Linked DNA regions of Homo sapiens. The protein of the gene in region 1 interacts with the protein of each later gene in a biochemical or structural test. Each region holds a gene or a part of one and is shown on either strand. Other genes may lie near its edges.

Region 1 (3,655 bases):
TGTTAGGCAATGTGCTTTTATTTTTATTTTTGATTTTGATTTTTTGTGTTTATTTTTATTTTAAATGAGGTCTCGCTGTATTGCACACAATCATCCTGAATTCCTGGGCTCAAGCTATCCTCCTGCCTTGGCCTGTCAAAGGATAGGATTACAGGCATGAGCCACCACACCTGGCCTTGTGCTTTGATTTTTTTACCATAGACCGGCACATCTTCCATTAGCTCAGCCTTTTTTCTCAGCCTTTTCTTCTAGACAGGAAAATGTCCTCAGAACAAAAGTTACTTGGTGTATGGTTTGTTTCTGGTTTACCTTCACATGGAATTTGGTAAGTAATTTCACATTACTTTATTTCATTCATTATTTAGTTTTTTTGTTGGCGTCAGCAGAAAGGTTGGTCCTGTCTGCCACTACCATAAATAAAACCCTAATTGTCTTTCTTTTTTACTTCTGAGATTTGATTTTAATATATTTATGCTTTGAGCCAAAATTTTTTTAACTTAACTCATATATTTAAAAATTTTAATTTTTAATTACTATGGATACATAAAATGGGGAGTATGTGATATTTGATATAAGCATACAATGTGTAATGATCAAATCAGGTAATTGGGATATCCATTACCTCAAGTATTTGTCATTTCTTTGTGTTAGGGACATTTCATTTCCACTCATTTAATTGTTCTAAAACATACACTAAATTATTGTTAGCTGTAATTACTATATTGTGCTACTGAACACTATATTTTATTCCTTCTATCTAACTATATTTTTCTACCCATTAACCATCTCCTCTTGATTCTCCTCTCAACACTACCCTTCCCAGCCTCTGCTAACATCTTTTTACTCACTATCTCTATGACTTCAATTTTTTTGAAGCTTCCACATATGGGTGAGAACATGTGATACTTGTCTTTCTATGCCTGGCTTATTTCCCTTATAATGTCAGTCACATCCATATTGTTGAAAATGACAGGATTTCATTTTTTTTTTATGGCTGAATAACATTCCATTGTGTATATGTACCACATTTCTTTATCCATCCATTGATTGACAGTTAGGTTGATTCCATATCCTGGCTATTGTGTATAGTGCTGCAGTTAACATGGGAGTACAGATACCTTTTATATACTGATTTCCTTTCTCTTGGGTATATACACAGTAGTGGGATTGCTGGATTATAGTTCTATTTGTTGTGTTTTTAGGAAGCTCCATACTGTTCTCTGTTGTGACTGTGCCAGTTTACATTTCCACCAACAGTGTACAAGGGTTCCCCTTTCTCCACATTCTCACCAGCATCTGATATTGACTGCCTTTTCGATAAAAGCCATTTTAACTGGAGTGAGTTGATACCTCATTATAGTTTTGATTTGTATTTCTCTGATTATTAATAATGTGGAACATTTTTTTCATATGCCTGTTTGCCATTTGTATGTCTTTTTGAGAAATGTCTCCTCAGATCTTTTGCCCATTTTAAAATCAGATTTTTTTTTCCTATTGAGTCGTTTGAGATTCTTATATATTCTGGTTATTAATCCTTTGTCAGATATTAGTTTGAAATATTTTCTCCCATTCTACATGTTATATCTTCATTTTATTGTTTTCATTGCTGTGCAGAAGCTTTTTGGCTTGGAGAGATCTCATTTGTTGTTATTTTATTTTATTTTCTTGCTTTAGTTGCTTGTGTTTTTGAGGTCTTATTTAAGAAGTCTTTGCCTAGACCAATGTCCTGGAGTTTTTGCCTAATGGTTTCCTTGATTAGTTTCATAGATGTAAGTCTTTAATGCATTTTTCTTTGATTTTTGTATATGGCAAGAGTTGGGGTCTACTTTTGTTGTTCTGAATGTGGGCATCCAGTTTTCCCAACACCATTTATTGAAGAGACTGTCCTTTCCCAATGAGTGTTTTTGGCACCTTAGTAAAAAACTAATTGGCTTTAAATACACAGATTAATTTCTGGACTCTCTGTTCTGTTGTTCTACATGTCTGTTTTTATGCCACTATCGTGCTATTTTGGTTACTATAGCGTTGTAGTATATTTTGAGGTTTGGTAGTGTGGTAAGTCTACCAGTTACCAGCTCTGTTCTTTTTGGTCAGGATTGTTTTGGCTATTTGGGGTCTTTTGTGCTTCCATACAATTTTAGGATTTTTTTTTTCTATTTCTGTGAAGAATGTCATTGCTCTTGATAGGGATGGCTTTGAATCTGTAGATTGCTGTGGGAAGTATTGTCATTTTAACAATACAATTTTTTTCAACCCATGAGCATGGGATGTCTTTTCATTTGTTTGTGTCCTCTTCAATTAATTTCATCAATGTTTGATAGTTTGCATTGTAGTTGGTTAAGTTTATTTCTAGATATTTAATATTATTTGTAGCTATTGTAAATGGGATCACCTTCTTGATTTCTTTTTCAGATAGGTTGTCACTGTTGGCATAGAGAAATTCTATGGATTTTTGTGTGTTGATTTTGTATTCTGCAATGTTACTGAATTTATTAGTTCTAATAGTCGTTTGTTGGAGTCTTTAGGTTAGTATAAGATCACATGAGCTGCAAACAATGATAATTTTACTTACTCCTTTCCAATTTAAATGCCCTTTATTTCATTCTCTTGTCTGTTTACTCTGGCTAGGACTTCTGTTACTAACTTGAGTAATAGTGGTGAAAGTGCCCATCCTTCTTCTAGATCCTAGAATAAAGGCTTTCAGTTTTTCCCCCATTCAGTCTGATACTAACTGTGGGTTTGTTGTGTATGGCTTTATCATGTTGAGGGATGATCCTTCTGTCCCCAGTTTGCTGAGAGTTTTTATGAAGGGATATTGAATTTTATCAAAAAAGATTTTTTTGGCATCTATTGAAATGACAATACACTTTGTGTCCTTCATTCTGTTGATACCATGTATCACACTGATTGATTTACATATGTTGAACCATCCTTACATCCCTGGGATGAATCCCACTTGATTATGATGATCTTTTTAATGTGCTGTTGAATTTGGTTTGCTGTGTTTTGTTGAAGATTTTTATATCTATTTTCATCAGAGATACTGGCCTGTAGTTTCTTTTTTGTTGTTGTTGTATCGTTGTCTGGTTTTGGTATCAGAATAAATCTGGGGCCAGGCATGGTAGCTCACGCCAGTAATCCCAGAACTTTGGGAGGCTGAGGCAGGCAGATCTCTTGAAGCCAGGAGTTTGAGACCAGCCTGGCCGACATGGTGAAACCCCATCTCTACAAAAAATACAAAAATTAGCTGGGCATGGTGGCTTATGCCTGTAATCCCAGCTAATCTGGAGGCTGAGGCAGGAGAATCGCTTGAACCCAGTAGGTGGAGGTTGCAGATCACCTGGGCAACAGAGTGAGACTCTGTCTCAAAAAAAAAAAAAAAAAAAAAAAGAATAAATCTGGCCTCATAAAATGAATTTGGAGATCCTCCTTGATTTTGGAGAATGATTTGAGTAGGATTGATGTTAGTTCTTCTTTAAATGTTTGGTAGAACTCAGTGAAGCCATGAAGTCCTGGCCTTTTCTGTGATGGGGGACTTTTTATTATTGTTTCTATCTTGAAACTTATTATGGGTCTATTTCGATTTTGGTTTTCTTAATGTTTCATTCTTCTTAGGCTGTATGTGCCTAGGAATTTATTCGTTTCTTCTAGGTTT
Region 2 (3,655 bases), on another chromosome or scaffold:
CTTGAGGGACTTGTCTCCCTCCAGTCATCTCCATTCAAGGCAAGAAGTGAAGAGGAAGGGGGAGCCAGCCTCCTAACTCATTTTGTCAGGAAAGCAGAAGCTTCCCTACCAACTCCTGTTTATGTCTGAGCATCTAGAACTTATCACATAACCAATGCTAGCTCTAAGGAGTGCTGGGAGAACAGGGAACAGGATCTATGACCTGAGGCTGAGAAGTCAGCCAGCCTAGAGAAAATCAGGATTCCAATCGCAAAGATGAAGGAAAGGATGGAAAATGGGAAAAGAACTGAAGGTGCCTTCTGCATCCCTGTTCCTAAAACGGTTATAGAGCCCTGGCTTCAAATTCCTTTAGACCACTAAAACCTCTCTCCTTTTTGAGACGGCCTCACTCTGTTGCCCAGGCTGGAGTGCAGTGGTGTGATCACAGCTCATTTCAGCCTGGACTTCCCAAGCTCTAGTGATCCTCCCACTTCAGCCCCCCAAGTAACTGGGACTACATGCACGCACTACCATGCCTGGCTAATTTTTGTGGTTTTTTGTAGAGACAGGGTTTTGCCACATTGCCTAGGCTAGTCTCAAACTCTTGGCCTCAAGCGATCCACCTGCCTCGGCCTCCCAGAGTGCTAGGATTATAGGTGTGAGCCACTGCGCCTGGCAATAACCTTCTTAAATCAGCACCAACCATTCTTTTTTCTATTCCTGCTAATAAAAGGCCATAATTTTGTCCGCCTTTAACTCCTGCCCCACCTTTTCTTACAGGTGTGTTTATCTATCGATCATCCTCAGAAGGTCTTAATTATGGGTGAAGCTCTTGACCTGGGAACCTGTAAAGCCAAGAAGAAGAATGGAGAGCCGTGCACGCAGACTGTGAATTTGGTTGGTTTCAGCCTTGTTAGGATGGTTTCTGCTAAAGAAAAGAACAGTTAGGAATAAACTGTTGGTGCTTTAGCTGTGATGACCAGTTTGGAACTGAGTTTCCCACTTAAAGGAAGAGTCAAAATGAGAAAATTTAATGTGTGGTTAATAACTGCCAGTTTAAAAAAGTGAGGGCAGGGGAAAGGTGAGGGGATTTAACCTCTTAGGAAAGTGATCTTTTATCTGACCAAGAAGTTTAAGACAGAATTTTTGTTTGCCTTTAATTCTTGTAATTCCACAGAGCAAACATGATGAAATACAATGAAAATTGTATTTTAGCCTATATTTTAACTCCATTATACCTTTTCTTAGGGCTTTTTAAAAAATAATAGCTTCATTTAGGTATAATTCACATACCATGCAATTCACCCTTTTAAAGTAAGCAATTCAGGCCAGGTGTGGTGGCTCACTCTTGTAATCTCAGCACTTCGGGAGGTCGAGGCGGACAGATCATCTGAGATCAGGAGTTTGAGACTAGCCTGGCCACCATGGTGAAACCCCATCTCTACTAAAAATACAAAAATTAGGCGGTCATGGTGGTGGGCGCCTGTAGTTCCAGCTACTCAGGAGGCTGAGGCCAGAGAATCACTTGAACCTGGAAGGCAGAGGTTTCAGTGAGCTGAGATCGCACTATTATACTCCAGCCTGGGCGATAGAGTGAGATTCTGTCTCCAAAAAAGAATATAAATAAATAAAGTCAACAATTCAGTAATTTCTAGTACATTCACAGAGCTGTGCAACCATCACCACTGTGTAATTTCAGAACCCTTTCATTGCCCCAGAAAGAAACCCAGTACCCACTAGCAATCACTCCCCAGTCTCCTCTCCCCCAGCCCCTGGTAAGCACTAACCTACTTTCTGTCTCTATGGATTTGCCTCTTCTAGACATTTCATATAATGGAATCACAATATGTGGCCTTTTCTGTCTGGCTTCTTTTGCTTAGCATAATTTTTCTCACAATTGATCCGTGCTGTAGCATTTATCAACACTTTATTCCTTTTTGTGGGTAAATAATATTCCATTGTATGGATATACCATACGTTGTTTATTCTTTCATCAGTTGATACACGCTTGGGTTGTTGCCACATTTAGCTATTATGAATAATGCTGCTAAAACACTCACATACAAGTTTTTATGTGGATGTATGTTTTCCACTCCCTTGGGCATATACCTGGGAGTGGGATTGCTGGGTCAACATGGTAACTGTCCAGAGTTTGGAGGAACTGCCAGACTGGTTTCCCAAGTGGCCCACCAGCAATGGATGAACTTTCCAGTTTCTCCCTGTCCTCATCAGCACCTGTTACTCTATTTCTTTTTTGTTATAGCCATTGTAGTAGGTGTGAAGAGGTACTTCTTAGAGTTCTTTGAAAGGATTAAATGACAGGTTTTGGTTTAATCTTTTTTTATTCCCTTATTCCTTCCTATTAGATTAATTGGTGGACAGGAAAGAATAAGGTGGGAGACGGTTGGAAAATGAGGTTTCAGAGTGAAGTACCCAACAGATCTCCCCGTGAGAATTAGATTCTTAAAAATCCATTGTCTGGATGGGGCGGTGGCTCACACTTGTAATCCCTGCACTTTGGGTGGCCGAAGTGGGCCGATCACTTGAGGCCAGGAGTTCAAGACCAGCCTGGCCAACATGGTAAAACCCCGTCTCCAGTAAAAATACAAAAATTAGCTGGGCGTGGTTGTGCACACCTGTAATCCCAGCTACTTGGGAGGCTGAGGCAGAAGAATCACTTGAACCTAGGAGTTGGAGGTTGCAGTGGGCCAGGATCACGCCACTGCACTCCAGCCTGGGTGACAGAGCGAGACTCTGTCTCCAAAAAAAAATCCATTGTCGCCGTAACTACTGTTCACCCAGCAGAACAATGCTGCACCATCTCTCTTTGTTTCTTTCACTGAAAGGATAGCACTTGTCCGAGGATCAACCAGAGAAACAGCTAGAAAAACCTCGCTGGGAGCTGATTTTGTTTTTAAATTATTTTTTATTGGGTCAAAATTCACAATATACAGTTAATCATTTTAAAATACATATATAATTCAGTGATATTTAGTTGTGTAACCACCAGCTCCCTGGTTTCAGAATTCCATCACCCTGTAAAAACAATGGCACCATAAAGTCATCACTCCCATCCCCACTCCCTCCGTCTCCTGGTGACGTCTAATCTGCTTTCTGTCTCTATGGATTTGCCTCTTCTATAAAAACTTCCTTTTATATTAAATAACATAGGTCCTATATTAAATAACATAGGACCTTGTGTGTCTGACTTCTTTCACCTAACTTGTTTTCAAGGTTCATCCTAAAAGCTGATTTCCTTTGTAGAAAGAGGGCAAGGGGTATTTCACCAGAACAGTGCTTTCAGGGGACTCGAAGGGAAGAACTTCTTCCCCTCAGGGACTGAGCAGCCCTTCCACATTGGGAACGGTCGTGGAGGTCAGCAGGGAGGACTCTGCATGCGTCATGTTCCGGGAAGTGGGGAGAAGGAACTGTGTCTGCTCACTGCTGTTTCCCAGCCTGTTGCCCTCATCCTGATGCCACTGCTCTGCCTTTTGCAGCGTGACTGTGAGTACTGTCAGTACCATGTCCAGGCTCAGTACAAGAAGCTCAGCGCAAAGCGTGCGGATCTGCAGTCCACCTTCTCTGGAGGACGAATTCCAAAGAAGTTTGCCCGCAGAGGCACCAGCCTCAAAGAACGGCTGTGCCAAGATGGCTTTTACTACGGAGGGGTTTCTTC
Region 3 (3,655 bases), on another chromosome or scaffold:
AACTCCGGGGCTCAAGTGATCCTCCCAAGTAGTTGGGATTGCAGGCATGTGCTACGCCACCTGGCTTCACAATTCTTATTTTTTTTTTTAGAGACGGGATCTGTCTCTCTCAGGCTGGAGTGCAGTGGTGCCATTATAGAACACTGCAGCCTGAAACTCCTGGACTCAACGAATCTTCTCACCTTAGCCTCCTGAGTACCTGGGATTATAGGCATGCACCACCAGGTCCGCTAATTTTTTTTTTCACTTTTTTCTAGAGACAGGGTCTCGCTATGTTGCCCAGGCTGGACTGGAAGTCGTGGCCTCAAGTGATCCTCCTGCTTCCATCTTCCAAAGTATTGAGATTACAGACATGAACCACCATGCCCAGCCACAACTCTTATTATTTTTTTAAGAAAACACTTGTTCATTTTAGAAAATTAAGGAATAGTCAAAAGAAGAAGTCATCTACATAGATGTTTTAACAACGTTATAATTTTAGAATCTGCTTTTTAAAAAGTAGAAAAATAATGCTAGACTGTTATGTAATCTTTACAAATATTTTGTTGCGGGTTTGGGAGCAGGTTGGCATAGGAAAATGCTTTCTTCTTGGTGTTCAGATTGATCTGGATTGAGGACAATGCAAGGTTTTCCTCTGGAGACAAAAGATCATTTATATGGATTACTTGATGTCTGAACTGATTCTATCAAACAATTCCTCTCCTCCCCTCATCAAATTTTAATTGAGAACTACTGTATTCAAAGCACTATTAGGCGCTATGGAGGACAAGGATATAAATAAGACCCAGTCCTCGTCATTAGTCTTCACAGTGGTGGAGAAATGAAACATAAACAAAAACGAATGAATATCTTAGAATTATAACTTAAACATACTTTAGCATCATTTAGTCTACCTCCAGATGAAATGCTGAGATCAGAGAAGTTAAACAATTTGCTTACGGTCCCAGTTAGTGATGGCCTTAAGGACTAGGACCTGTGTCTCTTTAATTCATGCCAGTTGTATTTTCTAAGTCATTCTGTTGTCTTCTTCGGACCTTAAGATCTCCACTTTTTTAGAATTTCCTCTTCAGGAAGTACTTGGGAAGTACTCTTCTGTTGATTACTGTGGCCAAGCTTCTTTACTTGAAAAGTGAAATACATTGGACCAGATCTTCTGGAGGTTGTCTATGGTGATGCTTAAGAGCGTGGGCTTTGGAGTTAACACCTGTATCAAGTCAAGACTCTGCTACTTAACTGTGTGACCTGGGGGAACTTACTTAATCTCTCCTAGTCTCCTGGTTTCCTTGTGCATGACGTGTGAAAATACCTTCTTTACAAAGTTGTTGTGATAATTACATGAGATAATTTTGTGAAGTAATAGCACAGTGCCTGGCACATAGCAAACACTCAATAAGTGACAACTGTGTTTTTAGAAAATTCAAATGTGAAGGAAGTAAAACTTTAATATACGTACAGGAAAGCTCACATAAGTGTATAGCTTGATGAATTTTTACAAGCTGAGTACACCTGTGTAACCAGCTCCAAATGAGGAAATATTAGCACACAGAAGTCCCTCTTGAGGGCTCATGTTACCTAGGGGTAACCACTATCCTGATGTCTAACAGTATGGATTACTTTCAGCTGTTTTTTATTTAAATACTTATGGGCTTTTTATGCTCAACATTGTGTTTATGAGATTTATCCATGTTGTGTATAGGTGTGTTTCATACATTTTTATTGCTGTATAGTATTCATTTATGTGAATATACCGTGTTTAACCATTACACTATTGATGGCATTTTTACACTTTAAAATTTTTGACTACTAGGCATAATGTTGCTATGAGCATTACAATGCATGGCTTTGGGTGAATGTTTCTGTTGGGTATTACCTAGGAGTGGAAAAACTGCTTCAGAATGTAAGCATATATTCAGCTTTAGAGGGGAAGTAAGAATCTTAATTTAGATGTTAATATAACCATAGTCCATTCAGACTATGGGTTGCCCCTTCCATTCGATGGTTGTTACTAAAACAGACAGGAACACAAAAAGCTAGAGAAGGTACTTGGCTTTTTTTGTTACTGAATAATAAAATTTTATGAAGTCATCTTATTTGCCATGACAGGTGAGTGTGGCATTTTTAAGACAGGACGGAGATCACTCTGTCCCTCTGTGTGCCTTTTTCTAGGATGAGGAGAACAATCCCCTTGAGACAGAATATGGCCTTTCTGTCTACAAGGATCACCAGACCATCACCATCCAGGAGATGCCGGAGAAGGCCCCAGCCGGCCAGCTCCCCCGCTCTGTGGACGTCATTCTGGATGATGACTTGGTGGATAAAGCGAAGCCTGGTGACCGGGTTCAGGTGGTGGGAACCTACCGTTGCCTTCCTGGAAAGAAGGGAGGCTACACCTCTGGGACCTTCAGGTAAAGGGTCTGCCTTAAAGTATATGGAATGCTGTTGACAGCTTCCATTTCTGGTAATATCCTTTCTCCAGTTTGCCATATTCCAGAGAGTTATATCTGATAGGTGGAGCACTCTACCTGCCTGGGAGACAGGATACCTTCAATACCTCTTTTCTATCAGATAAAGCTGGTGATACTTAACCATCATATGCCAAAAATGAGAGTTATTGGTGACAATGATTACAGCCTCATGGCTTTCCTGGGAGTTTCTCATTTAATTACACTTCGTCCCCATACACAGTTCTGTCTGAAGTTCTGTGGGTCAATTCCAGAGGTGGGGCATGATCAGCATATTTGGATCACAGACAGAACCAGTTGTTTAATTCACAATAGCTACCTGCCCCCTCCCCACCAACTCTAATTGGCTGGTCTAGTTTGGCAGCCTAAAAAGGCTTACTCCTGCTAGGGGTACTAGCTACTGATGTTAGGAATTGAATATAACGGGTTTCCTCTTTATTCTGTTTGTCCCAGGACTGTCCTGATTGCCTGTAATGTTAAGCAGATGAGCAAGGATGCTCAGCCCTCTTTCTCTGCTGAGGATATAGCCAAGATCAAGAAGTTCAGTAAAACCCGATCCAAGGTCTGGGCATCCTTTAGAAATTTGAGGGTGGGAATGGATTTCTAAGAGTTGTGTTTTGGTGCATGGCTATTTTTGTACTAGATCAGAAGGAAGGGTTGAGGTTTGGTGTTAGCTTTTTCTATTTTTGTCTCAATCAACAAATGAAGGGTGTTTTTGCTGTTTGTTCTTTAGTAATTCTGTTGTTATTAAACAATTTTAATACCTGCTACCTGCTGGGCTGCTAAATGAGCCTAGTACAAATATTAGGATAGGTGTTAACTTGCCCGTGTACCAGTAAGTCTATTTATTACTGAAGGCGTTAGTGATGCATTACTACTTAAACATTTTTTCTTTGTTTTAGTTCTCCAACTTGTTTTTATCTTTTTAAGATAGGATGTATATCCACATTTAGAATTGAACTACATATATGAATGTGTGATGATAAAGGTTACTGTTCAAGCACAGTACATGTTCTTATTAAACCTAAAATGTTTTGAACCTGGGGATACTTTTTTCCCTTAAAGATTAAACCTCTAAACAAGTTTTGGAATCCAGGCTGCTCTGTGCCTACTCTGATAATGGCCTGATAGTGTAATTTGTCTTAGAAAATAATTTTTTGCAGTTAGGAACAATGTACCTGTTTGTGTGTTTC

The links.
Region 2: the proteins of ORC4 (region 1) and MCM10 form a complex in vitro, tested with the Homo sapiens proteins (one large-scale study listed by BioGRID and IntAct).
Region 3: the proteins of ORC4 (region 1) and MCM3 form a complex in vitro, tested with the Homo sapiens proteins (one large-scale study listed by BioGRID and IntAct).

The regions. Positions count from the first base shown.
Region 1 is NC_000002.12:148,010,584-148,014,238, reverse strand, and holds part of ORC4 (origin recognition complex subunit 4), read left to right. Parts: intron 1-3,655. UniProt on the Homo sapiens protein: Component of the origin recognition complex (ORC) that binds origins of replication. DNA-binding is ATP-dependent. The specific DNA sequences that define origins of replication have not been identified yet.
Region 2 is NC_000010.11:13,185,405-13,189,059, forward strand, and holds part of MCM10 (protein MCM10 homolog), read left to right. Parts: intron 1-759; coding exon 760-876; intron 877-3,476; coding exon 3,477-3,655. UniProt on the Homo sapiens protein: Acts as a replication initiation factor that brings together the MCM2-7 helicase and the DNA polymerase alpha/primase complex in order to initiate DNA replication. Additionally, plays a role in preventing DNA damage during replication.
Region 3 is NC_000006.12:52,278,111-52,281,765, reverse strand, and holds part of MCM3 (DNA replication licensing factor MCM3), read left to right. Parts: intron 1-91; exon of another isoform or gene 92-213; coding exon of another isoform or gene 214-225; intron 226-2,166; coding exon 2,167-2,405; intron 2,406-2,915; coding exon 2,916-3,024; intron 3,025-3,655. UniProt on the Homo sapiens protein: Acts as a component of the MCM2-7 complex (MCM complex) which is the replicative helicase essential for 'once per cell cycle' DNA replication initiation and elongation in eukaryotic cells.